Regions from separate parts of the Homo sapiens genome. Here regions 1, 2, 3 and 4 are each linked to region 5. Evidence: fine-mapped expression QTL. A gene starts in region 5. Each other region holds a variant in brackets. All regions are shown on one strand. Distances are between the middles of the regions.

The links. PIP is the estimated chance that this variant, and not a neighbour inherited with it, causes the effect.
Region 1: its variant is fine-mapped to the expression of RAPGEF1 in whole blood (TOPMed, PIP above 0.99).
Region 2: its variant is fine-mapped to the expression of RAPGEF1 in neutrophils (BLUEPRINT, PIP 0.95).
Region 3: its variant is fine-mapped to the expression of RAPGEF1 in whole blood (TOPMed, PIP above 0.99).
Region 4: its variant is fine-mapped to the expression of RAPGEF1 in pancreas (GTEx, PIP above 0.99).

Annotation. Positions count from the first base shown.
Region 1 is chr9:131,590,309-131,596,424 of GRCh38, forward strand. RAPGEF1 (Rap guanine nucleotide exchange factor 1) reads right to left here. Exons shown (of 27, transcript NM_001377935.1): 17 at 5,990-6,065; 18 at 1,791-1,875. Among named protein-coding and RNA genes, the nearest start is that of PRRT1B, 48 kb to the left of the region's middle. The variant T/C (reference allele first, on the strand shown) is at 3,660.
Region 2 is chr9:131,706,614-131,712,729 of GRCh38, forward strand. All of the region lies in intron 1 of RAPGEF1 (Rap guanine nucleotide exchange factor 1), which reads right to left. Among named protein-coding and RNA genes, the nearest start is that of RAPGEF1, 30 kb to the right of the region's middle. RefSeq lists enhancers at 1,306-1,365, 2,807-3,588, 3,498-3,597, 5,455-5,956, 5,957-6,116. The variant C/T (reference allele first, on the strand shown) is at 3,181.
Region 3 is chr9:131,695,166-131,701,281 of GRCh38, forward strand. The region is part of intron 1 of RAPGEF1 (Rap guanine nucleotide exchange factor 1); the gene reads right to left. Among named protein-coding and RNA genes, the nearest start is that of RAPGEF1, 42 kb to the right of the region's middle. The variant C/T (reference allele first, on the strand shown) is at 3,162.
Region 4 is chr9:131,714,988-131,721,103 of GRCh38, forward strand. All of the region lies in intron 1 of RAPGEF1 (Rap guanine nucleotide exchange factor 1), which reads right to left. Among named protein-coding and RNA genes, the nearest start is that of RAPGEF1, 22 kb to the right of the region's middle. The variant A/C (reference allele first, on the strand shown) is at 3,209.
Region 5 is chr9:131,736,982-131,743,097 of GRCh38, forward strand. It overlaps RAPGEF1 (Rap guanine nucleotide exchange factor 1), which reads right to left and starts at 3,095. Exons shown (of 27, transcript NM_001377935.1): 1 at 2,789-3,095. The coding sequence starts at 2,849. RefSeq lists silencers at 2,479-2,808, 2,859-2,908, 3,059-3,318.

The sequences.
Region 1 (6,116 bases), 150 kb before region 5:
GAACTTTAGGTAGAGAACGGTGGGCCCAAACCAAACACCCTCCAAACCCCAGGTCCCTAGGCAGGTGTGTAGGCCAGAAGTATCTCCCTCCAGTCTTTCTGTGAGTTTCCATCCTGAGGCTGCCTCCCTGGGCTCTGCAAGGGAACTCTCACCTCCGTGACACCGGGCCGGGTCTCTCTTCCCAGAGCTGCAGCACGCTCCACATTGGCTCCCTGTCTCCAGGGCAGCACTTCAAGCACCCGATCAGCTCTAGCTCATGCCCTGAGGTCGGGCTCTGCTTTGTGGTCAGGGTTTCCTGCCCGGCTGTTGTGCTCGCCATCGACTCCCCAGATCTCTCTGACACCCTCCTGCCTGCTCTCTAGTGATCCACGACCTTCCAAGTCATGGGGCTCAGGACAGAGCAACGTACCAGGGACTGTGTCTTGGCCCACAGCACAGGGGTCGCCAGCCAACCAGGCCCAGACCTTGATGCTGCAATATTTCCATGATGGCTGAGCCAGGCAGAGGCTGAGAGCCTGGGCGCAGGCAGCAGGGGGCAAGCAGCGTGTGGCTGCTCTCCCACCAAGCAGCCACATGGGTCAGGTCCTTCATGTCTCTGGGCCTCGGTTTCCTCAATTACACAATAGGGAGTTATAGAGCAGTGGCCCCATGTATAATATGGTAATTTTATACACACCCACACACACATATTAAAAAATGGTCATAGAGCTAGGGCTAGGTGAAAGCACAGGTGTAAAGCACATCTCGCCTGACCAGCAAGTCCTTGACACGTGTGAGTGACAGCCATTCACTGAGTCAGGCCTGTGAGCAGGTGCTCTGAGTAACAGAACTTGCCGGGGACCCGAGGCTCCGCCAATGGAGGATGTCCACGTCTGTCTTGATAGATCAGGGATTCTAAAGGTCAACACGAGGGGAGAATAGGAGGCCAGGAGGTCTGCAGGAGGCCCTGAGTGGAGCAGTGAAGGCTCAGGGCACACAGGAAGGAGCGGGGGCGCGGGTGGACTCAGGACTTCCTACCCCAGGTGGTGGTGGCTGCCCAGCAGATGGCAGCCGTGGGCTATGTGCAAAGAGGTGGCTGAGGAGCAGCTGACCCAGGCTACCCTCCTAGAGCAGCAGCTGCAGGTCAGCCTCTTAGGATGGGCAGGTTTGGACTTGAAGAGGCAATGGGTCACACAAGTGGGTCCTTCCAAACCCCTGGGGTCCTCCTCAGCCACTACTGCAGAGGGTGACATTTACTGAGGGTGGGCCCATGGGGTAGATCTGGGGACAGGAGCCCATTCCAGTTGTGGATGTGGCAGTCGCAGGGTCCGCTCCAGGGAAGGTGACTGTGCTGACCCCTGAGCTGTCTATTTGGGTCTTGGTATCCTTCGTGCCCAACGCCCTGGGGCTCAGCTCTGAGAAGCTGCCGGAGCCGACCATGAGGGTCTCTCAGAGGCGTCTGCAGGACCGGCACACTTACCCCTCCCAGTCTGGGGCATGTCTAATTCGTTTTTAGAATCATCCAATGACCACAACTGCCACCAGACACACATTCCCAGACTATGTTCCAGCCTCTTCACATCATTTCACTCGGCCCTTTTAGAGATGAGGAACTTGCCTGAGCTCAAAGCTGGAATGCGGGAGGGTAGAGGTGGGAACCTCGGTCCATGGGGCTCCTGTGTCCCTACTTCAATCACACTGCCACCCAATATGCTGCTCGGCTTCCCCCACGAGGACTGAAGGGCAAGAGGGTCCCTCTCTCTCCAAAATGCCCATGGTGCAGGGGCCCTGGGTCAGGAAGGAAAGGATATCTGTACTGCAGCTTCTTGATGAGCTCCTCTGGGGAGATGAAGGTCCTGTAGGTGGTCAGGAATGCCTCGCAGTACAACACCAAATCTAGAGGGAAAAAACAATGCAAACTGCTTGTCTGGGTGCAGAGTGCTGGGGGGTGGTAGCCAGGGTGGATTTGAGTCCTTGCTCTGAGAGAGGCAGGGGAGATGGCACGGGGAGTGGGATGGGCGAGGGAGCCGAGGGCTTGGGAACCCCCTCTGGTGTCTCCGCCTGCATGTCCCAGAGAAGTCACACGTCCTCTCTGTCCATCTCTCAAAGGAAACGGCAGATCAGAGAGGGGAAACAGGAAAGGGTTTTATCTCATGGGCACTTTCTACCGATGATGGTGCTGCCTGGAGAACCGTGCTGTGGGAGCTGAGGCCAACTCTGGTCCCAGCGGAAAAGGGCACTTAGGCTGACGAGTGACGCCTGCCCTAGGCATCAAAACCCGGTGGCATGCCTGTTCCAGGTAGGAGCCAGCCCTGGATTAGACTCTGAGAGGCTCTGCCTGTCCTAAGGCTTTATGCTTCAGAGGGTCTCAGCCATCATGGGAACAAAGAAAATCGTCTGTTCAAACCCGTCAGCAGGATCCTGAAATGAAACCCTAGGCTTTACTTTTATTTTTAAATTTTTATTATGATTATTATTTTCGAGACAGGGTCTCACTCTATCACTCAGGCTGGAGTGCAGTGGTGCGATCTTGGTTCACTGCCACCTCTGCCTCCTGGGTTCAAGTGATTCTCCTGCCTCAAGCCTCCCGAGTAGCTGGGACCACAGGCACGCGCCACTACGCCTGGCTGATTTTAATACAGACAAGGTTTCACCATGTTGGCCAGGCTAGTCTCAAACTCTTGGCCTCAAGTGATTCACTCAGCTTGGCCTCCCAAAGTGCTGGGATTACAGGCGTGAGCCACCGTGCCTGGTCAGTACTTTTAGATGGTAGGGTCCAATCAGAAAAATCCGGGGAAATTCCACGTTTTGGGTCCTAAGGGATAGGCTGAAGAGGCACGGCTTGGGCCGGGTACCAAGGAGAGGCATGGTGCCAGCCACTGGGCAGGTGTGGGCTGGCAGCTCCAGCTTACCCCTCACCTCTCCATGCCTGCCTCCTCTTAGAGGGGGCTGGTACCAGTCAGGGACTCCCAGACTTTCCAGAATTACAACAGCCCTATTTATTTGCTGTGGTGACACCTTCTCAACTGTGCTGTCTCTGATATTACAGAATGAAGTGGAATTTTAAAATGTAGGACACTGCCTGAGCCAACGGGTGGCCAGACTCACTCCCTGCAGCCACCCCCCGTGCCTGCTGAGGTGTGAGGCCCAAGGAGGCTCCGCAGCTGTGCTTCTCACTGTGAGGCTGGGTGCAAACACGCACTGCTTAAATCTTGTGCTCTGGACATAGACCACCTGCTCCCACCTTCTCCCTCATTCCCGAGCTGCTGGGTAGAGGAATCTCGAGGAACCCACATCTCCAGCTGAGTCATGCTGGCTTGGCTCCTGCCCCCACCCTTGCCCCATCCCCTCTTGCATCAAACGAGAGGAAAACCCACGCCTGCTCTTGCACTGGGGGCTGCGTGGGGTGGGGCTGGCAGGTGAAGGAGGCTCCGGGCTGGGAATCACAGCAGGGCCCATCCGCACTGTGCTCAGGCTCATTCCTCGGCCCCCACACCCACCCAGTTCACTGTCAAGCTTGGATTTTTGTTCAAAGAGTTTGGGGAAGGAAGCAGAGATGGCACCAGCATAGACCCATACCTGCTTCTGGAAGAAGGGGCCCAAGTCAACTGGCCTTTGCGGGTGCATCATTGCCAGTAGCCATGACAACTTCGTGGGACTCGCTGGTGAGCACTGGGCCA[T/C]GCCTTGAACATATGCCACATCCTTCAATGCCCAGAGCAATCCCACAAGGACAGAGTCCTGTTACCCTACCGAGAGAGGAGGAGCCCAGGCACGAGGCCACACCACCCGCAAGCAATGTGGCGGGGTCGGCGCCCATGTCTGCCCAATTCCAGAGCCCTCCCCCATCTGCTGTGCCCTGGATTATGGCAGATGGGACAGCGCCTGGCTTCTGGGACGGGCAGTGCTGTGCCACCCCTCTAGAGATCACAGGACTCTCGATGCGGTCCTGAGCACTCTGTGCGCCCTGGCTCACCTGGTCTTTGAGACAGCCCTAAAAGGCCCCGAAATTGTCCCTCATTTTCCTCCTAAGGAATCGGAAGCTCCGGGGCTAAGTGACAGGCTTGGCACACAGTTGTCAAGGGATAGACAGGATCTAAGCTGAGGCCTGAGGCCAAGGCTGACCTGACCTTCTCCCATGCAGGTCCTGACACCTGAGAGCAGAGCCGTGCAACCACAAAGCACCCCCACACGGCCTCTCCCTGCCAAGCCCTGCTTGGCAGGCTGGGCTCCACGGGCCTGAGCCACGGGGCTCCCAGCTGCTCGTGATGCTGGTGCAGTCTCTGGCTTGCAGGATGCACCTGCCCAAGGAGCTTGCTTTGTTACCTGCCACAGGGTGCTTCACCCTCCCAGTGGAGCCATGGCTTCTGCCTCAGTAATACTTCCTACGTAAAACTTTGGTTCTGGGGAGCCTCCAACCCTTCTGCTAGTAAAATCAGGCAAAGCTCCCACCGGCACGGAGCGTCCTCTCAGCAGGTCCAGCCAGCAAAAGCCAGAAGCCTCTTGGCTGTCCTGTCTCAGGGACCCCTCCAGCCTTGGCCACAGCTGGCTGTACCCGACAGGACAGTGGAGTTCACCCTTTGGAGCCGAGGTCTGAAGCCAGCTCCCATTTCAGCCCCTCGCTGTGGACAAAAAGGAAATGAAAGTCGCTCCCATGCCTGGCTGAGTATGGAGCCCCCTATGTCAGGCAGGGAGGGGGATTCACTGCAGAGAAGCCAAGCAAGGGCTGCACTCGGCGCTCAGGATGCTGCTGATCACGCCCCCAGCACCGCTGACATGCGGGGCAGGTTTCACACTCCCTCACGTAATCCACACAACAACAGGCACCGTTCACCCCTTCAACAAGTGGAGTCGGCTCAGGCCGAGAAGCCCGGGGACTGCCCAGGGGCCCTCTGAGCCTGTCATGGCACAGCTGGGGCTAGGATGCAGCATCGCCAGGTCTGGGCCCTGCCCTGGTCAGAACAAACAAAGGGTGAGGGAACAGTGAAGGGGAGGGCGGAGCAGTGGCTGCGGTGAGTTTGTGGGAGCCATCTCTTCTTTTTCTCTAATTTTCTGCAATGTAAATATTTTTTAGTACTACTTCCATAATTCAGAAATTCCCCGAGTCACTCTGGGTCACATGTTTTGGGAAACGTGCTGAGGAAACACAGGGACAGAGTCCCTTACAGAAATGAAACGGGTTGGGCTAGGATTTCAAGGTGGGGGTGTTTTCATTCCCTCCACAATTTACTTCACCATTGCTCTGACATCATCTTTTAAATCATTTTTTTAAACGTAAAAAGAGAAGCAGCGTGTGGAGAGACTGGCCGGCCAGGTGGTGCTGGCCCCTTGAGGGCAGGCAGTGAAGGGTGCTGTGGCCATGCCCCATCAGGTCACTAGCACCTCCTTTCCAGAGCATGACTGGGAATGACTTTGCTAGCAGAGTCCACCCAACAAGACGTTTTAGGGATTAGGGGACGGTCCCTGCTTTTCCAGCCCTCTCAATCAGCACACTGAATGCGTGGTAGGGTGGGGCAGCTGTGTGCTGTGAAACTGAGGCCACTGCTACAGAATTGAAGGTTCCTGGACAGAACAAACCTTCAAGAATTTCCTCGTGGAGTATGTGAGTGAAGTCCGGTCTAATGGTCTGCAACAATAGAGTGACTCAGCAGTCAGGAAAGGAATCAAAAGGTACCTGCATGTTATCTTAAGTTTAGTACTACTGGGTGACATGCCATCACTCAAGGCGCTGTCTGTGGTGCGCTTAGTATGCGCTGAGCCCCTCAAGGACCCTGGAGGCCCTGGGGTCACTACCTTGTACCAGCGGAGGACAGATGCCACGCACGCCTGGAGTTGAACATGATCTACTTGTCTTCCAAGGTGGGCTCTCCCTGCTCTGACTCAGGCGCACCAGGACTGCTGATCAGACCTGCTCAGGGCTGTGGCTGCCAGGAGGGGACAGGATAGCGGTGGGAGGCCGAGTGGCACCCGGGGCAGGACCAGCCCCAATCTAGTGAGCTCACTGACACCCTACCTTTCCTGTCAGTCTCAGTAGCATGGACCAGTAAGATGTCCCCAGATCCTCCGCGGACGTCCGGCCCGTCATCACCCTGTAATGAACACAGCCAAGGAAGGTATGAGGCAGAGTATGCCCTTCAGAG
Region 2 (6,116 bases), 30 kb before region 5:
TCCCATTTCCAAAATGTAAGCAACCTTTCAAGAAAAAGACAAATAAACTGTGAAGGACCACTCCCTATCCCTGTTATTTCGGCTCTTCAGCAGGACACCATGCGCTATGAAAAACGGCTTTTCCTTCTGAGATGGACTTTGGACCGCAGTCCCCGGGTCTATCAGCCCAAACAAATAAAACCCTATGCGCCAAAGATGTGCTCCTGGTCAGTGGGGCCTGTGAAGGCTTAAAAACCAGAACTGCTCTGTTCTCTTCTTTAATCTCCAATTCACTGTGGATCTTGAAATCCCTACTACCAACAGTGGTCCTACCACTCTTCTCATTTAAATTACTGAACACAACTAAACAAAACCACAAAATAAAACATCAAACCTGTCTGTCTGTATACCCAGCTGCTTCCAATGAAAATCTTCAGACATTTTAACTCATGGTTTTCTAAGGAGAACCAGAGACAATCCAAACGTAAGTAAACATATTAAATTTCTATTCTAAAAGTGGTGCTTTTAAGTAGTTGGATCAATGCTGATTTTCTCCTGGCTGGCTGGAGACACCAGCCCACACGGTGCTGAATTCAGAAGAGTACCGCATCTTGGTCTGCTTCAGTAAATACCGGTGTCTGCTAAGGCCCATTCTGAAGACACTGTACTATGTATGACACAGTCAGAACTGGTTCTTTATTTTAATGTGTAAAAATACATGAAAGAAAGTATAACAAACCTCATATATCGATGACCTGGACTCTAACACTTGTTAAACTTATCCCATTTTGCTTATCTTAGGTCCCCATTTATTTATACAGTATATTTTGCTGAACCTGTTTTTTTATTTTGATTTTTTCTTTTTTGAAACAGAGGCTCTCTCTGTTGCCCAGGCTGGAGTGCAGTGGCATGACCTCAGCTCACTACAACCTCCGCCTCCTGGGCTCAAGCAGTTCTTGTGCCTCAGCCTCCCGAGTAGCTGGGATTACAGATGTGCACCAGCACGCCTGGCTAATTTTTGTATTTTTAGTAGAGATGGGGTTTTATCATGTTGGCCAGGCTGGTCTTGAACTCCTGGCCTCATGTGATCTGCCTGCCTCGGCCTTCCAAAGTGCTGGGATTACAGTATTGTTTTTAATTGGAGAAAAGGCATACAAATTTATTAACGTGTATACAGGGAAAATCACAGAGTGATTATGATTTTAGAGAGTAAATTATAGATAGCATAACTCTTCACCCTTAAATACTTCAGCATGACTATTCAAAAAAGCACACACTCCTACATGACTCAGCACCGTTTCACACATAATCACATGAGCAACAGTTCCTCATTATAATCCACCATGGAGTTCATATTCAAATTTCCCGAACTGTCCCCCAATGTCTTTAATAGCCGTTTTGTTCAAACTTGGATCCAATCAAGGATTGCTAAGGAGTACCCTTTCCAAAGTAACATGTTAGACAAAAGAATGACTCACAGAAAGTCAGAAGGGCTGGAACCTGACAGTAAATTAGCATCCCACCTACTTTCTTTTTAAGAGAAAATGATCTATGATTTGACAAACAGCAACTGCTCTTAATATTTCCATGCATTTTCTTCCAGTTATTTGTTTTCTTTTCATAAACACACCCATATATGCAGTTGTGAAAAAACTGTCTTGCTACTGATCAAATGCTACCGCAACTTCTTCTGGCAAGAGGAGGCAAAGACCTGGTGAAGTCTCGCATATGTCATCTCTGGCATGCCTGCCAGCCGGCCGGTCTCCTGGGTCAATAACTGTGATAAAAGGCCGCTGAGTGCGTCAACAGACTGTCCTGCACTGAGACACTATTAAAGGTCCTTGAGCTCCAAATGTACCACTGCACTGCTCTGTGGCCCTGCCAACTTCCTCCTCCTCAAGCTGACATGACCCCAAGCCCTAGAGAGACAGAGTAGGTGTTAAGAGAGGCTGTTGTCCCACTTCCTGGGTGTCCAGGATGGATAAATGAAAGATTTTACAGAAAGTACCTTGAAAGTACTTTGGAACTTTTGGAAGTGCTATATATTTAAAAGCTGTTAATAACATTATCTAAATCAAAAAATATCACAAAAGCCTCAAACTCCTAGATATCAAAGCTTTGACCTGGGATATTTCTTTTTCTTTCTTTCTTTTTTTTTTGAGACAGTTTCACTCTGTCACCCAGGCTGGAGTGCAGTGGCGCAATCTCGGCTACTGTAACCTCCACATTCTGGGTTTAAGCGATTCTCCTGTCTCAGCCTTATGCCTGTAGCTGGAAATACAGGTGCCCACCACCAGGCCTGGCTAATTTTTGTATTATTAGTAGAGACGGGGTTTCGCCAGGTTGGCCAGGCTGGACTCGAACTCTTGACCTCAAGTGATCCGCCTACCTTGGCCTCCCAAAGTGCTGGGATTACAGGCGTGAGCCCCTGTGCCTGGCTGACTTGGAACATTTCTAAAAAAGTAAAAATGTTCAGCCAGGCGCGGTGGCTCACACCTATAATCCCAGCACTTTGGGAAGCTGAGACAGGTGGGTCATGAGGTCAGGAGTTCAAGACCAGCCTGGCCAAGATGGTGAAACTCCATCTGTACTAAAAATACAAAAATCAGCTGGGCGTGGTGGCGGGTGCCTGTAATCCTAGCAACTCAGGAGGCTGAGGCAGAGAATTGCTTGAACCTGGGAGGCGGAGGTTGCAGCGAGCTGAGATCATGCCACTGCATTCCAGCCTGGGCGACAGAACGAGACTCCATTTCAAAAAAAATAAAAATTTTCAACAGACACATACTGCACCAAATGAAACATCTCGAGCTGAACTAAACTCTCAGCCAAACCAAGCCATCATATTGAGAGAGGAATCATCTTATTCCTCAGGAGAATTGTGAATTTTCTTGAAATCATGTTGGACTACCTGTGCTTTCTGCTCTGGAAGGTGATTCCCCAGGCACTTCAGCTCTGCTGCTGGGCCAGTCTCTCAGAGAAAACTGCCTCCTTGCTTCTTCCTGGAAAGGAAGCCCAGGGCTTTCTTACCTTGTTTCCAGGGGTACAGATGACTTCGTTTCAAGGGCTTCTGTTTTTCAATAGCATTGCCCATTTTAAAGCCAGAGGACACAGGGCCCTTCCCAGCCCCAGCGTCTTTCCGGAGCAGCAACTGAGGACCGAGTCACTGGCTGAAAGGGGATATCTCTTGGACATCCCAAACCA[C/T]CCAGCGGCAGAACCCAGGCAGCCTCACAAGGGAAGCCTGAGGAATCTCATTCTCAAGTCTTTGCCTTCTGCCTTTCAAAATCCCTTTGGCCCCAGGGAGGAAATCAGAAGAAAGGGCTTGTTATCGCCCTACCGGTGCCTCTCAGGCATGGTCTATATTAAGAAGCTCTTTCCTCAGCATCCTTTTGACACTTTATTACTCATCAGCACAACAGCGGCTTGCAAGATGAATTTTATGTCCAAATACTTTTAATACCACTTTTCTCCGCAGGAGAAATGGGGAATCAGGTGATCAAAATGCTGAAAGTCATAAATGAACCATTCTGGGGCATGCCAGGAGAAACATTTTCATACAGACCCTTATGCCACGCCTTCTATTTCAGAGTCCCACGCTCAGACCAGTGTGCACCACGTAACAAGTACTGTCAGAGAAAACAAGCTGATTTCACTAATGCTGTGTTTCCAAGGGAAACACAAAACGAAACAAAACATCAAAACACTGCTACACCTCAGTCTCCAAAGAAGAAAACACCTTGGGGACAAATACAGCTAAGAATTTATAACCCCAAGCTCCAAACTCCCACTGCACTTTGGGAACAATTTTGCTGGAGAAAGTGCTACGCTACCTAAATTCTGAACAAAGGGTTTTCTAGAAGAAAAGAAGGGAATGAAATCAATCACATATTCTTGGTAAAAAGGAAGACAATGTCGAGGTGGATGAAAAGATTTCATTTATTTCAGTCCCAGAGTTTGAGGTTATAAAAGCCCCTAAAGAATCCCCACAGCATAATATGGGTAAGAATGCAGGCTCTGAGCCGGGCGAGGTGGCTCACGCCTGTAATCCCAGCACTCTGGGAGGCTGAGGTGTGTGGATCACTTCAGGCCAGGAGTTCAAAACCAGACTGGCCAACATGGTGAAACCCTGTCGCTACTAACAATACAAAAATTAGCCGGGCGTGGTGGGACGAAGCTGTAATCCCAGCTACTTGGGAGGCTGAGGCAGGAGAATCACTTGAACCTGGGAGGTGGAGGCTGCAGTAAGCCGAGATCACACCACTGCACTCCAGCCTGGGTGCAAATACTAGCTCTTCCCCTTGGCTTTGCCAGTTGAGCACAGCAGCCTCAGTTTCCTTATCTGTTAACTGGGCATAATTCCAGTCTCACCTCCTCAGCTGTAATAAGAATCAAACAAAAGAGAACATTTGTGAAGTACGTAGCATGCTGCCTGACACTCAGGAGGTCCCTGGTGAATATTTAACTTTTTTTTTTTTTTTGGAGTCAGGGTCTTGCTGTGTCACCCAGGCTGGCGTGCAGTGGTGCAATCATGGCTCACTGCAACCTCAACCTCCCTGGCCCAAGCAATCCTCCTCCCTCAGCCTCCAAAGAAGCTAGGACTACAGGTGCATGCCACCTCGCCTGGCTAATTTTTAAATTTTTTTGTAGAGACAGGGTCTCCCTATGTTGCTCAGGCTGGTCTCAAACTCCTGGTCTCAAGTGAACCTCCTGCCTCAGCCTCCCAAAGTCCTGGGATTACAGGTGTGAGCCACTGCACTGTGCCTATTATCACCTTTTTTTTTTTTTTGAGACAGAGTCTCACTCTGTCACCCAGGCAGGAGTGCAGTGGTGCAATCTCAGCTCACTGCAACCTCTGCTTCCTAAGCTCAAGTGATTCTCTTGCCTCAGCCTCCTGAATAGCTGGATTACAGGTGTGCGCCACCACACCCAGCTAATTTGTGTATTTTTAGTCGAGATGGGGGATCTGCCACGTTGGCCAGGCTGGTCTCAAACTCCTCACCTCAAGTGATCCGCCCGCCTCGGCCTCCCAAAGTGCTGGGATTACAGGCGTGAGCCACCACGCCCAGCCCTTCATCACTTTTATAATTGTAGACGGAAAATACATTAGCTTAGGTGGCAGATATCTGGCTTCGGTCAATTTAGTCAAAAGCACCAAAGTAAATTTATTTTACAGAGTTGGATGGTACAAAATGGGAGCAAGTATAGAACCGGAGTAATATTTGGGACAACATTCCAAAAAAGACCCACAGAACCAGAGAGACCAAGTTTAAGAGGCACTTAATGCTCTGTTAAGTTTCTGGGCGCAGTGGGCCACTGTGTTAAACCAGGCCCTTCCTTTCTGAAGGAAGGGGAAATAATCTTTCCAATTTATGCAAAACAGACAAAAACCAAAATCCAAATCTCTACAAGATCTTAAGGCCTCATAATTGATCTACCAATACAGAGATCATTTTTGCAAAATCACGGCCTGAGAGTCCAAACTTGGCAAAGCAAATGGCATGTGTCTGTCGCACCGTCTCCAATGAGGTGGCAGGAAAGAGCATGGGTGCAGAGGCTCCCTGTTTCCCTCACAGAGCCCGCAAGCTCCTCCCCAGATTAAACTGCAGCCACAAACTGGAATAAAGCACAGGGAACCCCCACCACGCGAGAGGGGTCCAGTGAAAACTAACAGTTGCACAGCAGAATACCTGGCACACAGTAGGTGCTTAATAACTCTCTGTTGAATAAATGAGTGGATAGGTGACAGAATAAACCAATGAGAATTATCCCCAACATACACACACTGATTGTCCCCACCCCCTGGAATGCATTAACCAGAGTTTCTAATCCATAAACAACCTCTCCTCTCCTAGCAAGAGTCAGAGGGTATGGGCGGCTGGGGCGCTGTTTCCTCCACTTCCCCACTCCTTAGCTCAGGCCACTCTGGGCCCTGGAATTTCTTCCCTATCAGGAGTGCGAAGCCCCTGAAGTCAGGAGCCGTGTCTGGGGCAGCTCCTCCTGGCGCCTGTGCACACAGACAACAATGGGTCACAGTTACAGAACCTGGGCTCAGGTGTGCCCTCTCTCGTTTCTCAGCTGGGGGCCAACACATTTGTAACTGTGTTTCCATGAAAAAACGCATCCTAGGTTCCAAACAACTA
Region 3 (6,116 bases), 42 kb before region 5:
TCATTAGATAAATGCATGAACGTGCTTCTTCTGAGTTACCACTCTCTCATAATTCGGAAGCACACAGGGACTGCCTGGTTCCAATTCTGTAGATTCTTTAGCTCAAATCCCCGCCAATGATTAGAATGCTTCCCTGTGTCCGGTTTCAAATTCCTGAGGCAGAACCAATTGACCCGGCTTGTCTTCCCAAAGCAGGCCACACGATAGAGGTCAATGGTAGCTACCCATGGATGAGCCATTTAGTGTAGAAGGGCCTCTTGGCACAACCGAAAAAGAGCAAAGCCATCTGAAGCTATTCAGTGTGGAAGCAAAAGCTCTCCCCAGATTGCAAGCGCACTGCTGTGTTACAGCAGAGGCCACACTGGGTATCAGTGGAAGCAGGGGCATCAGGAGCGAGTTGGATCAAGCTAGACGTTTAGCTGCCAATCCTAACCTTAGTGGGGGCTGCTGCCAGGACTGAGTGGTGTACCTCAATGTCTGGCTCACCCAGAAGAGGTGCATCACTCCCTCAGGAAACTTAACTGTCCATATGCAGCCATCTGCTGAATGGTAAATGTTCTCTCTCTGGTTGGAATGATGGAAACTCCAAGAAATGCATGATAATAAGAACACCCATGAATGACATGTTCCCATCTCATCCTCTCCATAAACAGATTTGTTGACAAGTGTAACCAGCAAACATTTAATAAAAAAATCAATGTAACTCTGCAGGCAAGCAGGCATTCTTTAGAACTCCTCACCGCACCCCGTTCCCTGCTGCAGATTTTATAATGACCTGAAAGGCAGAGTGGCTGACACAAGCTGGATAGTTCTGGCTCAGGAAGATGTCTCATGAAGCTGCAGTCACCTGAGGCCTGACTGGGGCTGGAAGAGCTGCTTCCCTTCCCTGTGGGCTGCTGGCCAGAGCCACAGACCCTCACCTGTGACCTCGCCTCACCACAGGACAGCTGGTCTCCCCCCAGAGCAGGGGATCCAAGAGAGACAGGCTGGCGGAAGCTACAACATCTTGTATGACTTCTGCTGTATTCTACTGGTCATAGGACCAGCCCTGATCCAGAGAGGGAGGGGATGACACCTGAGTGTGAATACCAGGAGGCGGGGATCCCCGGACCATCCTGGAGAAGACATACCACAGTCTGCTCATGTAGACAAAGACCTATTTTTTAAGGGCCCAGAGCTAACAAAAGGTTTTTACATCTTAAAGGGCTTTCCTTAAAAAGGAAAATAAAGCAGCATATGTGACAGAGACCACAGGTGGCCTGCAAAGCTTAAAATATTTACTATATGGTCTTTATAGAAAAAGTCTGATGACCTCCGATGTACACTGTACTTTACAGATGATTTAAGGGATCTTTCAAGGCTAATTCTTCCTCTGTGCCATGTTCTCTTTATGCTCGGACTTTAGAATCTATCTCCCAAGTGAGCAACTCTATTGAAACAGGTGCTCAGCGAACTGTAGCTCTGAATATTATAGTGGCAAGCACTAAGAAATGAACAGCTCATCATAACCTGAACAGAAAGATAATAATCAACAGTTCCTTGTCCATAAGTAGGTGTCTGATAAATACAAACTCAGTGAATGAATGACTAAATGGATACGAAATACTACAAAGACGCATCTTGAAAGTATGGAGCTATCATGACAATAAAAATATCTTTAACCAACGATTTACAATATAAACACAACAACATGTGAAGGTGCTATAATAACATTAACAGCTGAAATTTATCGAGGGCTAACTCTATGCCAAGTATTGTCAAGCATTCTCGTATTCACGCCTCATATGCTAAGGCAGGTGTAATTAGTTGCCTTCATTTTACAGATGAGCAAATTGAGGCTGACGGAAATTAAGTAATTTCCCCTGGATTACACTGATACATAAGTAGCGGGGCTATTTTCTCTTAGCAAACTACATAAAAAAATAAAGAGCAACTCTGCATCCTGAATGTCATGCCTGAGATGAGCTTGCTGAAAGCGCAGCAGAGACAGCAGCCCTCTGCTGGCCCAGGCTTCTCCTCCATCCCTTCTCGCTCCCTCCCTTCCTCACACTCAGCTGGCTGGGATCCCAACCCAGGGACTCCAAGAAGGGCCCAGCTCCGGGCTCCCTATGTAAGCAAGGTCACAGAGACTTGAAATGGGTGATTGAACCTAATTACTCACTGCTCTGCTCCCTCTATCCAAAGAGAGCTTGAAAACATTTTCACTGAGGTCTTTGCTGAGATTGCAGACTCAGCACAGGACCTGCCTCCTGCTTTCCTAAATGAGCGAAGTGGCTTGCAGCGGCTCTAGCTCTGGGGCCAACAAGGTTTTGACGCTTGAATTAGGAGAGGGCAGAGAGAAGGCTGCAGCTCTTGCAGCAAAATGCAGGGCTGTCAGGTATACACCCAGGACACACTGCAGCCACTGCAACAGAACAGAACTGAGCTCTAGGCCACGGGTTTCCTAGGCGGACATAAAGAGATCTCACTCTCCCTGAATGGCCTTGGAGATGGCTCAAAGTGTCCACTCTTCCCAGATTCTTGCACCTGAGGGTACAGGACTTGCTCAAGACTATACAGCCAGTGTCAGAGACAAAGTTCACTGATGCTAATTCAAATTTTCCCACATTTTGGATTCTGCTCTTGGAAAGCTTGAAGTCCAGTTGGTTGAAAAGACAGTTGATGATGACAAGTTCTGGAGGGAAGAGGACCTGGGCAGAGGGAACCTGGACTAGAGGCTGAGTGTACCTGTGTCAGGGCCAGAAAGAGAGGGGCCAGGATAAAGGCAGACAGAGGAAGTCAGAGGCCTGGAACAAAGTGGGGCGTGAAGGGGAACATGTGTGACTATCTGGACAGGAGAGTCAGCTGACCAAGGACAAGGGCAAAGACTGTCAAAGGGCACTGAGGGACCAGCTGAGAGCAGAGACATGAATCTGTGTCAATAACACACCACTGTGACCTCAAAGGGATTCTCATAAATACAGCTGTCCAATCCCCGCACAGTAAACATGCAAGCCACAACAAGATGATCACCTCCCTCAGTCCACCCTGATTATGAGATAATCATCATCCACAAAAATATTATTCCCATGCCTAACAAGCAAAGGGAGGAGGGGCCCTCTAGTCTGCCCTTGTAAACAGACACTTGCAGGAAGGGAAAATAGGGAAGAAAGGGGCTTTGA[C/T]GTCAGAGACCAGTTTAGGTCCCAATTCTGCCACTTACTAGCTGCATGATCTTGAGCAAGTTACTGGATGCTCAGTGACCTGGTTTTCTCATCTGTAAAATCACAATCATACTACCTACCCCAAAGAACTCTTGTGATGATTGAAAGCAACATGCTTAGCTCACAGACAGCTGTGACAAATTGTTTGCAGTAATGGCCAAACGATTCCCTGCTCCTCATACCCACAGCTTGGCAAGATGACTTTGCACTCTCCTGTTAGAAGGGCGGGTAGAAGGAGGGGGCAGGTCTCTCTCTCCCTTCCCCTTGAATCTGGGCTGGCCTGTGGCCTGCTTTAGCCAATGAAATAAAGTAGAGGTAACTGTGCGGCTTCTGACCTGGGGCCTCAGGGCTGCCCCCCTTCCCCGACCAGGTGAGCAACCCCACTACGGGAGGGACCCTGGGCTAGCCTGCTGGAGGCCCAGGGATAAGCCCTCCCAGCAGCTGATTGTAGACACTTGAGGAACCCTAGGCAAGACCAGGAGCCCAGCAGCCCAGCCTGAACTGCCAGCTGCAGAAGTGTAAACTAGGTGCCCAGTTGTTATTTAAGCTCCCTAAATAGCGGGGTGATTTGTCAGCAAGGACTGTAAATACTCAATGCACCACAGCTGATAATCAGGACTTCTCTCTCGTCCGGCAATTCTCCTGGTCTTGAGCGATGTTTCCATCTCTACCAGGTCATTCCCATCAGCATTCAACCTTGCCATTATTTCACCCTTTATGAAAAAACTTTCCCTTGACCGCAATACCCTTAACAACTACCACCTTGTGTCTTCACTCCCGCTTTCAGCAAAACTCCAAGAACGCCCATGCTCCCTGTGGCCAATTCTCCTCTGCTCATTCTTTGACACTTTCACACCCAACACTCCACTGACACTTTTTTTTTTTTTTTTTTTTCTGAGGTGCAGTTTTGCTCTTGTTGCCCAGGCTGGAGTGCAATGGCGTGATCTTGGCTCACTGCAACCTCTGCTTCCCAGGTTCAAGTGATTCTCCTGCCTCAGCCTCCTGAATAGCAGGGATTACAGGCATGTGCCACCATGCCTGGCTAATTTTGTATTTTTACTAAAGACAGGGTTTCTCCATGTTGGTCAAGCTGGTCTCAAACTCCCGACCTTAGGTGATCCGCCCGCCTCGGCCTCCCAAAGTGCTGGGATTACAGGCATGAGGCACTGCGCCTGGCCCCACTGACACCTCTTGTCAAGGTCTCCAGTGACCACTATGTTACTGAATGCCAAGGCCAAGTCTTGGTCCTCAAGGGATTTGACCCAGTCAGCATCATGTGTCACCGAAGCCCCCTCTCTGCCTCCTCCTCAGGAACACTTTCTGCAGTTGGCTTCTGAACACCAGTCTCCTGCTTTCCCCCTACCTTCCTGGAAGGTCTTTCGAGGTTTCTGCTGGTGCTCCCTCATCTCCTCCACCTCCTAATGCTGGAGTGCTCTGGGGCTCAGGCTTTGGCCCCTGCTCTTCTCTGACTTACTTGCTGGTATCTCACCCAGTCTCATAGCTTTAAACACCATCTTTATGTCAACAACTCTCAAAAAAGCCTACACTTCTTTTCTGAACTCCAGATTTTTATACTCCAGATTTTAATGGCCTAATGGCCACCTCCTTGTAGCTCTCTGACAGGCACCTCAAACTCACTCTGTACCCACACAGCCCCAATCATCCCCCACAATCTGTGCCACTGAAGCTCTCCTGCTTCGAAAGTCAACCTTCCGATGCTCAGGAGAAAACCACTGGGGTCGTCCTAGACTACTCTTTCTCTCTTTCACCCCATACTCAACCCCTCAGTAAATCCCACTGGCTCTCCCTTCCAAGTCCTTACAGTCATCTCAAGGCCTGGCTTCATCTGCCATGGGTCTCCAGCCTCCGCCCTAGTCACACATTCCCAGGTCAGGGCCTCTGCGCCACCTCTTCCTTTTCCGGAGCGCGCCTGCCCAGACATCTGCAACACACAGGATTCTGCTCCTTATTTCTGATCACTCTCCCTTTCCATCACATGTAAAACTAACAACCCTCTTCCCCTGTCCATCCTGTCCCCTTCCCTGGCTCCTCTATATGATACCTGTCATCCAAAAGCCTACATATTATACTTGTTCATATGTAAACTAAAAACTCCAGAGGGCAGAGATGTCTTATTTTCCTCATTAGGTATCCCCCGTGCCTGGAACAGTGGAGACACAGGACCTGTTCAATAAACATTTGTTGGATGAATGAACATCCAATCAATAAATGAACAAATATAGAAACAATAGAATTTTTTTTAGTACAGTGTCCCATTTAATAGTAAAGGAAAAATGCTGAAAGCCTCTATAGTCAATCATGAGGTTCTACAAACCTTCCACTGTCTGTTTTCTCCTTATTACAGTGGTGAGAAGAAGAAGGAGGTCTCCATTTGCATAGATGGAGACCTGAATGTGTGTGTGCCGGAGAAGCCAGAAGGCTCGCTGAGCAACCCCAGTCAAACAGGAGGCTGCTTGTTCGTAGCCTGCAAGTGAAGAATGGTTTTCATATTTTTAAATGATTTCACTTTAAATCGTTTTATGGGTATCTACATAATAGTCTTACTTTTGCTTCTTGGGCCTGCAAAGCATAAAATATTCATGACTTGGCACTTTTAGAAGTTTACCAACCCCTGGAGGCAAACTTCTCGGTAGTCCACAAGGCCCCCTGAAACAGTTATCCAGGTATTTCAGCAAAAAGTGACATCTGAAATCAAGTGCCTTAGAAGCAATCAGTGAAAAGTGATTGGAAAAGTGATTAAAGTGGGCACTGGCCATGGCTATTATCTAAAATAATGGTGACACCCTCTATGCAGCTGGGAAAGAAATAGCCAAACACGGAAATGTATTTTACGCACGTTCCCAGGGTAAAGCATATCCGAAAACCAATGGCTACGGATAGATATTGTTCTAAATT
Region 4 (6,116 bases), 22 kb before region 5:
GGCATGAGCCACCGAGTCTGGCCGAGACTGCTTTGAAGTAACTTTCCTGTCCAGGCCTGGAGGAAATCATCGAAGGCAAAGGCCACCACGTGTCGAATGTCATAGGAAATACAAGCTCAGGGACTCTCTTATGACACATCTGCAAACTTATAGATCAGTCTCAGAATGTCATAGCTGGAGGGGCCTCAGAGATTTACTCAACAAATACCAACACGGAGCTTGGGGAGGGTCGGATAACATGCACGAAGAATCACTTAGTTATCCCGGTGATCAGTGCTAAATTCAGGGTGGGGGACGCATGTCTAGCAGGGCGACCTAATCTAAGCTGGAAGTCAGGGAAGGGTGAGACTTGAAGGATGAGCAGAGCTGGACCAGGCAAAGGGGCAGTGTGTATGAAAGACCTGTGTAGCTGGAGGTATGTGCCCAGGGGAAGGCCGGGGGTCAGATGGGACAGGGCCTTATAGATCCAGGGCTTTGTCTCATGGGCTTTGGGGGTTCCTAAGGTGCCGGCAAACCACGTGTTCATTCTTCTGGGAAGAGAGGTCTATGGCTTTCACCAAAGTCTTAAGGAGTTTCAAGAGGTTAAGAATGGCCGGGCACGGTGGCTCACGTCTGTACTTAGGATCCCAGCACTTTGGGAGGCCAAGGTGGGCAGATCACAAGGTCAGGAGATAGAGACCATCCTGGCCAAGATGGTGAAACCCCATCTCTACTGAAAATACAAAAATTACCTGAGCATGGTGGTGAGCACCTGTACTCCCAAGCTACTCGGGAGGCTGAGGCAGAAGAATCACTTGAACCCGGGAGGTGGAGGTTGCAGTGAGTGGAGATTGCACCACTGCACTCCAGCCTGGTGACAGAGCGAGACTCCCTCTCAAAAAAAAAAAAAAAAAAAAGAGGTTAAGAACTACTGATCTAGCCCAACTCATTACAATAAAATGGAGAAACTGAGGTCCAGAGAAAAAAGACCTTTCACAGGAGGCTAGAGGCCCCAAGTCACTGACTCCCATTGCAGTGCTCTCCCACAGCTAGCCCGCCGACCCACGTCTGCAGGGGATGTGTCAACAACTACATATGCTGGCTCCCATCCCACTGGCCACTGCTGCTGGATCCCACACGAGGCTGCTTCTATCCAGGCAGGCCTAGAAGGACAATCTACGGAAATGAACTGCAAAGTCACCAGCCCATCTTTCTTGTGCAACCTAATCTGCAAAACACAGGGGCTCAGAACCTGTCCCTTGCTTCAGATTTCAAGGACCCCCCCAATGATACAGTTTCTGGCTTTTCAAGAAGCTTCATGGATGAGGCTGGTTCACTGAAGGGCAATCAGGGCTCAGCATCCAGCCTTCTGAAGAAGCTGTTTACTTGTTGTTCTTTACAAAGTCAGGACTTGGCCAGGAACTAAACGTAGCCCTCAGTATGGGAAAGGGAGAAATTTGGAAGACTTGGTGGAAAGTCTAAATATGTAAGGAGAATGCTTCTTAAACCCCTGATGTGGCCAGGCACTATGGCTCATGCCTGTAATCCCAGCACTTTGGGAGGCAGAGGTAGGTTGATTACTTGAGCCCAGGCGTTTGAGACCTGCCTGGGCAACATGGCAAAACCCTGTCTCTACAAAAAAAGGAAAAACATAATTAGCTAAGCATTGTGTTATGTGTGTCTGTAGTCACAGCTACTCGGGGGGCTGAGGTGAGAGAATGGCTTGAGCCTGCGAGGCAGAGGTTGCAGTGAGCCAAGATCGCGCCATTGCACTCCAGCCCGGGTGACAGAGGCAGACCCTGTCTCAAAAAAATAAAATAATAAAAACCCCTCGATGCTTCCTGTAATACTAAAGGTAGAAGTCCTAAGTACGTGGATTGGCATTCAAGGCCTTTTGGAGTCTGGCCCCAAATTACCTTTCCCACCTTCATCTCCCACTTCCTCACACGGCGACTGGACACTGTGCATAGCCGTGCACCTGCCTGCCTGCACTGTAGCTCCTGTCCCTCCTCTCCAGCGAGTCAAAGGAAACCTCACAGCCAACATCCAGTGGACTCTCAAAGATCAGTGTTGAGGGTCCCACAGCCTCGGGTCCCACAGCCTCTGCTTCACTTGGACCATGGCAGTATTGGAAGGGGTAATGCCCGCACTGGGGAAGACTCCAGCCCCTCTCCTGGCCAGCCCGCTGACCTCAGCCTCCAGGCTGTGATGCCTCTGCCCTTTACAACTCCCCGCCTCCAGATAAACTTGACAGAGCCACTCACTGCTGATGGCCCTCTGCACTGAGCTGCATGAGGATGAACACGGTCACAGCCTGCACTCTGGCTGTGCTCCTCAAGCTTGTAAAAATGCACCTGTCTCCCTTAAGAGGTGTGGAGTCCATACACAATGGGTACTCACTATCCACTGAACAAAAATTAGTGAGCGTCAGCTATGTGCCAGGCACCATTCTGGGCTCTGGTGAAATAGCAGCCGACAGGGAGCTTACCTCCCAATGAGGGAAAATATCATAAAAAAGAAGCAAATAGGCCAGGCGCGGTGGCTCACACCTGTAATCCTAGCACTCTGGGAGGCCAAGGCAGGCAGATTGCCTGAGCTCAGGAGTTCAAGATCAGTCTTGGCAACATGGTCCCTGTCTCTATTAAAAACACAAGATATTAGCGAGGCATGGTGGTGCATGCCTGTAATCCCAGCTACCGGGGAGGCTGAGGCAGGAGAATCGCTTGAACCCAAGAGGTTGCAGTGAGCCAAGACTGCACCACTGCACTCCAGCCTGTGCAACAGAGTGAGACTGTCTCAAAAAAAAAAAAAAAAGGCTACATTTAAAGGGGGAAAAAGAGCGGGGGATGAGGGACAGAAAGTGATGCGCACCCTATCTGTTATTCTGGGCCCAGTGGTTAGGGCTGACCTCTCTGGGTGGCATCTGAACAAAGATGTGAGGCAGCTAGGGATAGGGAGCAAAGGACACAGGAAGAGGAACTCATGTTTGCCCAGTTCTTCCAATCGAGTACTCCCCAGCATGAACTCACCAAAACCCTACCGCAGGATCCATCTTATCAATGAGAAACTGATTTTTAAAAGGAGATGGGTGAGCAACTTTTCCCAAGATCACATGATCAGCAAACGGTGGCACCAGCAGCCTTTAAACCGTGGCTCTTGTCCATGGCTTCTCAGCAGGTGCCCTACAATATCTGGGGAATGAATGTTCCAGTAAGAGAACGGCAAGTGC[A/C]AAGGCTCTGAGGGAAAGGAACACCTGGAAGAAGAGCACAAAAGCCAGTGTGGCTGGGACACAGTGACGGGGAGAGGGGTGTCAGGGAGTGAGTTAAGGGCCAGAGTCCAGGGCGCACACAGGCCACGTCGAGGACCTCGGATCGCTTCACATGTGTGGGGAAGCCCCAGGCAATCATAAAGAGGATCCATGTGATCCAGTTCACACTCTGGCTGTGAAATGCAGAATGAATGGCTGTGAGTTGGGAGAAGAAACCAAGAAGCCGGTTAGGAAGGCATGGGGCAGTCCAGGGAGAAACGGCGGTGGCCTGGAGTAAGGGGTCAGCAGAGGAGGTACTAAGAAGGACCAGTCAGGATTTATTGGAGTAAATCGCAGGGGTTTACCGAGGGACTGGATGTGCGCTGGGAGAGAGGAGGCAAGGACACCCTCATTGTTTTCTCATCCAAACCAAGATTTCTAAGCCTGAACAATCGGATCAAAAATGGCATTATTTACTGTGATAGGGGAACCCAAGGTGAGTTACCAGGCAGAGAGTGAAGGGGAGAACCAAGAGTTCTGGTTCAGGTGCATAATGTCCTAAAGAGGGGCTGGAAACATGCATTTGAGAAGGACCAGTGTTTAGCTAGCTGGCTTAGTGCCACGGGACTAGGCTGCCTGTTCCCAAATGGCAATTCAGGAGACAGAAGAGCCCAAAACAGAAGGCTGAGATGAAACCCTTTACAGAGCACGTACACTTGATGCTGTAAAATTACTCATGGGAGTACTGCGTGACTTCAGATATAATTTAAATTTTAGAGGTTGTGGCTTTTTGTGTGTGTGTGTGAGACAGGGTCTCACCATGTTGCCTAGGCTGGACTTGAACTCCTGGGTTCAAGTGATCCTCCCACCTCAGCCACCAGAGTAGCTGGAACTACAGGCACATGCCACGGTGCTTGGCAAAATTTTAGTTTTCACGTTCTGGATGCTTAGTTTGTAAATGTCTTGCTTATCATGACTAATATGTCATCCAAATTAATCAGCTAATATCCCAAGGCACAATATACATTCAGAGTGAGATTCACCAAAGAGTTTTCTTCCCAACTGCTCAGCTTCTGGCCATCTCTTGTCAGGGCTCATTAGATCACTGTTGTTTTTCCCTCGCAATACTGCTGACAAGAAGCATGAACTGGAAGCAGAAGTGTCACCATTTTCTTGTTCACGTGTACTTATACTACTAGAAAAGTCTTCAGTCTGTGATGTCTTTTTGGGGCTATTATTAAGCTACTTCTCTATTTTATAAGGGTTTGTTTCAATACTGGGCAGCGGCTTCAACCTAGCTCTTCAACCCAGCTGGACAAGTCACATAAACCCTTCAGGGCTTTTTTTTTTTTTTTTTTTTTTTTTGAGACAGTCTCACTCTGTCACCCGGAGAGATAGTAGTAAGCTGATGTTCATTAGGCACTTAGCCCATGCAGTACCAGGCTCCTTTCTGTGTATTTTACTCTCGTGGTTGCATTAGATCCTCACGATAAGAGAAGGATACTGTTACTGTTCTCATTCTACAGAGGAGGAAACTAAGACACAGAGCTTTTCTTTGAGATCTGAAAGAGTTAAGATTTGTACATAGTCATACACCGAATTGGGGCAAAGTTAGGGGAATAGTTCATCTGACTATTGCCCACACAGCTATATTTTCTTCTTTTCTTTCTTTCTTTTTTTTTTTTTTTTGAGACAAGAGTCTCACTCTGTCACCCAGGCTGAAGTACAGTGGCACGATCTCAGCTCACTGCAACCTCCCCCTTCTGGGTTCAAGCGATTCTCCTGCCTGAGCCTCCCGATTAGCTGGGACTACAGGCATGGGCCACCACACCCAGCTAATTTTTGTATTTTTAGTAGAGACAGGGTTTCATCATGTTGGCCAGGCTGGTCTCAAACTCCTGACCTCAGGTGATCCGCCCACCTTGGCCTCCCAAAGTGCTGGGATTACAGGCGTGAGCCACCGTGCCCAGCCTTGGGCCTCAGTTTTCTCATCTGTAAAATGAGGCCACTGTCACCTCCTTCCAGTGCTTTTGAGAGGATTAAATACACATAGCACAGCTCCTGGCATTACTGCACAGAAATTCTTTGTTACGTCATCATCATCATCATTATTATTATAAGGGCAACCTTTTATCTTACAGGTAAGTCCCTATGACCCTTCCAATTCCTCTCCAGACTTTGAGTGGTGGTTCCAAAGATACCCCCCACCTCTACCAGCAGTGTCACCCAGGGAACTCGCTAGAGATGCTCATTCTCAGCCCAACCACAGACCTACTGAATCAGAAACCAGGCGCCAGAGCCCAGAAACCTCCAGGTGCTGACGTTTGAGAGCCACCGAACAGGCAGGCAGCATTCTGGGTACCCGGCAGGTCCTCAGGACAGCGACCACCTGGCCCCAGATGACCCTGTCAGCAACACCTGCCAACATCACAGGCTGCAAGTTATCAATTTGTCACAAACATCAAGCTTCTTACCTGTCTTTCTGGCTGTTTCCTTTAACCTCCTCCCACAGTATATCACTTGCATAAAAAATGAAACTTCTTAGAAAAATCCTATGCCTGTATCTTTTCCACAGCAACAGAAAAAAAAATCTCTGTCCAAGTTAACCAAGACAAGTGTCCCTATATAATTATTTTTCCAACTTTCTCTATAAAACTTAAATTGACAAAAATACTAATATCCCTTTTATCCATTCCAAAGAATAACAATTTGAGATTTGATGTGATTTTTACCTTAAGATAATGTGATCTGGTTGTTATATGTACATGTTTATGTTTCTTGAACCAAACCATCCCAGATTTTGATGCTTCTAGGAGTGACTGGAACATGCCAAGTAGCAGATGCCCATGGGAGAACGGAGCCCCAGACAATCCCACCGACCCTCCCGCAG
Region 5 (6,116 bases):
AATGCAAAGGGAAGTTCACTGAGAATAGCCAGCAGAGACCACCAGGAAAGGTCATCCTCACTCCAGGCGCGCCCCAGTCTTCCTTGGCAGTTGTAATCTTTCACTATGATTCCTATGAACTGCAGCAAAAGACCTTCTGCAAGGAGGCTGGACTTCCAGCCAGCTCCACATCTGCAATCCCCAATCTGCAGGCGAGGTCCTGACCCTGGTCTTGCCAATCTCAGAACTCTTACTTTTTCTGCTTCTCACAAAATGCATCTTCCTCCCACACTTTCCGCAGCTCCTGGTCAGCCCCTTCCCCTCTCTCCTCTTTCTCCCTGTCTCCACCAGGTATATATCTCAGCCCTCTCTTCAGAGCCTAGCACAAACACTGTCCCCTCCAGTGTCTTCCTCATTCCCGCACTCATGACACCCCTCTCTCACCTGTGTCCATGGCAGCACGGTCGCTCGGTCTGGCAGCCTGGGTAGCTTAGAAACTGTGCTAGGTTAGACAAGCTTCTCTGGGAGCAGGCACTTTCATCTACAACCCCCTAGCAGAAGGCGGTGCCCAGAAAAGGCCCAAGGACAAACTATGCTGAAATGAACTGGCCTCAGGTCTTTCTCCCAAATAGCAGAGAACTCAAATGAAGAGTCATTTCATTCCCAGCGGTTTGGGCAGCTCATGGGATGACAGGCAACTTTTTCCTTTTTTTAAAAAAAGAGGCCCAGCGCGGTGGCTCACGCATGTAATCCCAACACTTTGGGAGGCCGAGGTGGGCGGATCACGAGGTCAGGAGATCGAGACCATATTGGCTAACACGGTGAAACCCTGTCTCTACTAAAAATACAAAAAAATTTGCCAGGCGTGGTGGCAGGCGCCTGCAGTCCCAGCTACTCGGGAGGCTGAGGCAGGAGAATGGCGTGAACCCAGGAGGAGGCGGAGCTTGCAGTGAGCCGAGATCGCACCACTGCACTCCAGCCTGGGCAACAGAGCAAGACTCCGTCTCAAAAAAAAAAAAAAAAATTTTTTTTAAAGTAGCAATGAGGTCTCGCCATTTTGCCCAGGCTTGTTTCAAACTCCTGGGCTCAAGTGATCCTCCTGCCTTGGCCTTCCAAAATGCAGGGATTACAGGCGTGAGCCACTGTACCTGGCTGACAGATGATTTCCAATCCGGTTCATTTTACTTTTCTGTGATTTCCAAGTTTTGACAATGAACATAGAATATTCTTATATTATAAAGATATAAAACATAATATAATCTTATATTAGATATAAAAAGATATAATATAATCTTATATATTATAAAGTTCTTATAAAAGAACTCAGTGAATGTTCTTTTTAAAATAAATTATCCAAGTTTCCCAACAGTACCGTTCTGACAAGACACTATACAAGAAGTTCCTGAGAAATGCTGCACAGATGAACCCAAGTTATTTCTGGAGCAGCAGGTGTACAGGATGGCGACTCATGGTCACTCGGCAAGGCTGTGGGGGCTCAAATTCAGTGAGAAAAATACTCAAGAAATGGCACCTGAACCCAAGCGCCCTGCCCCTGAGAAAAGCACCCTGGCTTCTGGTCAGAGGGCCAGGAATGAATATACTAGGGGCCTGCCGCCCTCTTGCTGTCTGGACAGCCGGAACTCACTGAACCTCTCTGAGCCTGTAAAACTGGGACCATATTCTTTCCCACAGACTAGCTTCAAAAATTTAAGAAGCAATGCATTTTAGGTGCTAAGAGTTAGATATATAGTAAACCCTCAATAAAGCCTACAAAAATGTCCTTCTGTGCTTCAACCACAGCCTGCAAAAGTCATATTGCCTTGTGGGTCCGCTGCAGGGGTGCACCCCACAGAAGTATCCCAGATTCAACCCAGGAAACATAAGCAACTTCCACAATCAAAGCCACAGACCTCCTTTGCAGCTCCCTAAAAATCTGCTTTCCCTCATTCAGCCGCCAAGCTAACCTGCTACCGGGGTTATGACCACAGGGCATGCTCCCAGTACAGGAGCCCAGGAGCACCCGCCCACTTCACCTTAGACCCAAGAATTCGCATTTGCCCTGCAAGGTGCTGCAGGCTAATAAAGCCTGGGGCCCCACAGGCTCGACAGTCATTGAATCTTTGGAGACTCTATTTCCAGGACAGGCAAACCCAGGGACTCGGAAGGTAACTCCCCCAGATTTCTAGGAACACACAAAGAGACGAGGTCTGCATCAAGATTTACCATCTACTCCAACCCACCGGTCCCCCACCTGCCCTCCTTGCAGAGCTGAGCTTGATCGGGGTGGGGAGGGGAAACTTGACTACCTCCTCAAAATACCCCCACTCATCCAGCCTGCTTCCTTTGAAGCAACCGAAGTGGACGCTTCTCGTTAAACTCGAAGCTCGTTAGAAATGACACATTTTACAGCTCAGCTGGGTTCACCCTCCTAGCGCCGAGCCCAGGCCGGGCACCGATCGCTGCAGCCGCAGCAGCACGCGGCCCGGGCTGTTCTTCCCCTGCTTGGGGCTCGAGCCATTTTCGGAAGTTCCCGGGGACCGCGGAGCGGCTAGCGCGCCCGGCCCCGGGTTGCAGGGGCCCCGCCCGGCCCGGCCCCTGGCGCCCCCGCAGCGGCCGCTTCCCCCCGCGCCCGGCAGGCAATGGGCCTGGAGGAGAAGCTGCCAGGCGCCCCGGCGAGGCCTCGGTGGCTTCACCCCGCCCCGGCGCACGGAGGGCCGCACATCCCGGGCGACCCGCGCTCGGCCCGGGGAGCGGCGGAGCCCCAGGGCCGGGCCCGGCCGGAGGGAGCCGCCCCACGCCCGCGCCTCACCTGCTTTCTCGATCTTGCCGGACATTTCCGGGCTGCGCCGGAGGCCGAGGCCGCCGCTCATCGGGCCCGGGCCGGGCCGCCGCGGGGCGACAGGGGCGGCGCGCCCGCCGCTCGCCTCGGCCCTGGCTCGCCACGCCTCAGACCCGCGCCGGCATGGCGGGCTCCGCGCGGCCGCGGCCCTGCGCTCGGCGACCGCGCTCCAGCCCGCCCGGGCCCAGCCGCTCCCGCCGCGCCCGCCGCCGCCGCTCCGCCTCCCGCGCGCCCGCCGCCGCTCCCCCGGCCCGCGAGCCGGCCGCAGCGCAGCGACGCCGCCCGCCCGCCCGCCGGGCCTCGGCCGCGGCCACGGCCACAGCGCCACCTGCCGGGCGCCCGCCGCGCCGCCACAGCGCCCCCTGTGGGCCCGGAGCCGCCCGAGCCTCCCGCGCGACGCGCGAGACGCAGCGCCCCCTGCCGAGCCGGAGTCCCCACGCCGGGGCCTGGGGCCTGGGGTGTGGGGCCGACCCCGCCTGGGACTCCGCATTCCTCTGCTGTGGGACCAGAGTCACCAGCTCCAGACCTGGGACTGACAGCTCCAACCCAGGGTCCTCGGTTGCCCAAGAGCCTGGCCTGCCCCCTCACCAGAGACACAGAGAACCCTCCTGGGTCAGATTTTCCACCCCAGGACGTGGAACTGACGCCCACCCCACCCTAGCATCATCCCGGACCCAGCATCCCCTGTGGGCCAGAGGCTCCACACCAGGGCCTAGAACTCACTCTCACCAGGACTCAACAAGCTCTGCTGGCTGGGAGCCTGTCCTGACCTCCCCCAAACCAGAGATGCAGCACCCCCTTTTTTGTTTTGTTTTTTGTTTTTGAGACCGAGTCTCACTTTGTCGCCAGGCTGGAGAGCAGTGGCGCGATCTCGACTCACTGCAACCTCTGCCTGCCGGGTTCAAGCAATTCTCCTGCCTCAGCCTCCTGAGTAGCTGGGATTACAGGCACATGCCACCATGCCCAGCTAATTTTTGTATTTTTAGTAGAAACGGGGTTTCGCCATGTTGGCCAGGCTGGTCTCGATCTTCTGACCTCATGATCCACCCACCTTGGCCTCCCAAAGTGCTGGGATTACAGGTGTGAACCACTGCACCCTGCCCGCACCCCCTTCTTAATTGGAGACCCCACACCAGGGCCTGGGAGTGGCCTCATAGCACCTCCTGCCAGCCCAGAGGCTCCAGCCGGGGAATGAGTCCACTCTGGCATGAAAGCCCTCTGCTGGCCCAAGGTCTATGCCAAGGCGGAGGATTCATTCTCCACCCCAGCCCTGCATGTGGGACTCAGTCACCCTGCCAGCGAGAGCCACCTGTCCCGGGCTGGGGTTGGCCCTACTCAGGCCTAAATGTCCCCTGAGGCCTAGAGCCTCCATGCTGGCCTGGGCCCAACTCCCTCAGGGACACAGCACACCCTGCCTGCCCTGCTTATTTGACATCCAGAAGGGCACCCTGGGGCTCAGCTGTGGAACTTTTCTAGTGTGGAAATGAGTTCATTAAAAGTCGTGGCTGGGCACGGTGGCTCACGCCTGTAATCCCAGCACTTTGGGAGGCCGAGGCAGGTGGATCACGAGGTCAAGAGATTGAGACCATCCTGGCCAACATGGTGAAACCCCATCTCTACTAAAAATACAAAAATTAGGTGGGCATGGTGGCACACGCCTGTAGTCCCAGCTACTTGGGAGGCTGAGGCAGGAGAATCTCTTGAACCCAGGACATGGAGGTTGCAGTGAACCGAGATCATGCCACTGTACTCCAGCCTGGTGGCTCCAGAGCGAGACTCCGTCTCAAAAAAAAAAAAAAAGTCGTGGTTGGGCACAGTGGCTCACGGCTGCAATCACAGCACTTTGGGAGGCTGAGGTGGGTGGATGACTTGAGCCCAGGGGTTCGAGACCAGCCTGGGCAATGTGTGAAACTCCGTCTCTACTAAAAATACAAAAATTAGCCAGGCACGGCGGCACCTGCCTGTAGTCCCAGTTACTTGAGAGGCTGATGAGGGAGAATCACTTGAGCCCTGGAGGCAGAGGTTTCAGGGAGTCATGATTGCACCACTGCACTCCAGCCTGAGTGACAGAGGAAGACCCTGGCTAAAAAAAAAAAAAAAAAAAAGGAAAAAAAAAGTCATTTAAGAATCAAAGGATCTGCTAAGTCTAAGCACTATTTCGGGTTCTGTGGGCCCTACAAAAGTGGGCACAATTGGTGCTTCCCTCCAAAGAGTTCACAACTTAGCTGGGAAGTCAAAGTTAAATCCTATAATACAAGTAGTAAATAACAACAAATTAGTAACGCAAGTGATGTTCCAATGTGGGGCAATTCTGCTGCCTGCTTCCTGTTGTTAGTCTAAGATGGAATACAAAGAAGTAGCACGCACCACCTGGGCTAGTTTTCCCTCCTGTTTCCCCCAAAATAAGTAAATTAAATAACCTAGTGATGGGGACAGGATTTGGGGGAGGTGCAGGGAGGAGGAAAAACTGCTAATGTTGTGAGAGATTCTTATTCCCATCTCCCTGGACAGTCTAAAGGGTCACCGATTCCACAACTAAGAGCTAGTCAGGCCGGGTGTGGTGGCTCACACCTGTAATCCCAGCACTTTGGGAGGCCGAGGTGGGTAGATCACCTGAGTTCAGGAGTTCGAGACCAGCCTGGCCAACATGGTGAAACCCCATCTCTACTAAAAATACAAAAAATAGCCGGGCGTGGTGGTGCGCGCTGGTAGTCCCAGCTACTCAGGAGGCTGAGGCACGAGAATCACTTGAACCTGGGAGGCAGAGGTTGCAGGGAGCCAAGATCGCGCCACTGCACTCCAGCCTGGGTGACAGAGCGAGACTCCCTCTTTAAAAAAAAAAAAAAGGAGATGGTCATAGATGGCAGCCAAATTTCCCATCATCATTTCATCAGTTGCAGCCCTCTAGAGGTCAAAGGCAAATCCAAAGATTGACAAATTCATTTCCCTCTTCCACCTGATGAATGGATGCTCTGATCCAGGGTGGCCCTGTTCAGCCCTCTTGGCAGATGCCTTACCAGGCAAAACTGGCCCCTGGTCCCAGGCCCAACCCCAAAACACACTCAATGCTGCCCCCAACCCTTCTAGGCTTCTGAGCTGAGAAGAGCCGATATTTTAAATCCAAAATCCTGGTTGAAAAGTAGAAAACTAGACTGCATGGATACTAGGTGCAGTCAGGGGTTTGTGAGAACACAAATATATTTAATAAATTATGACATATCCAATGACAAAAGATTTGCAAACAACAAAGTACTTTGCAAATGGACATTATGGTAAATCAGGGTCACAGAACTTACTT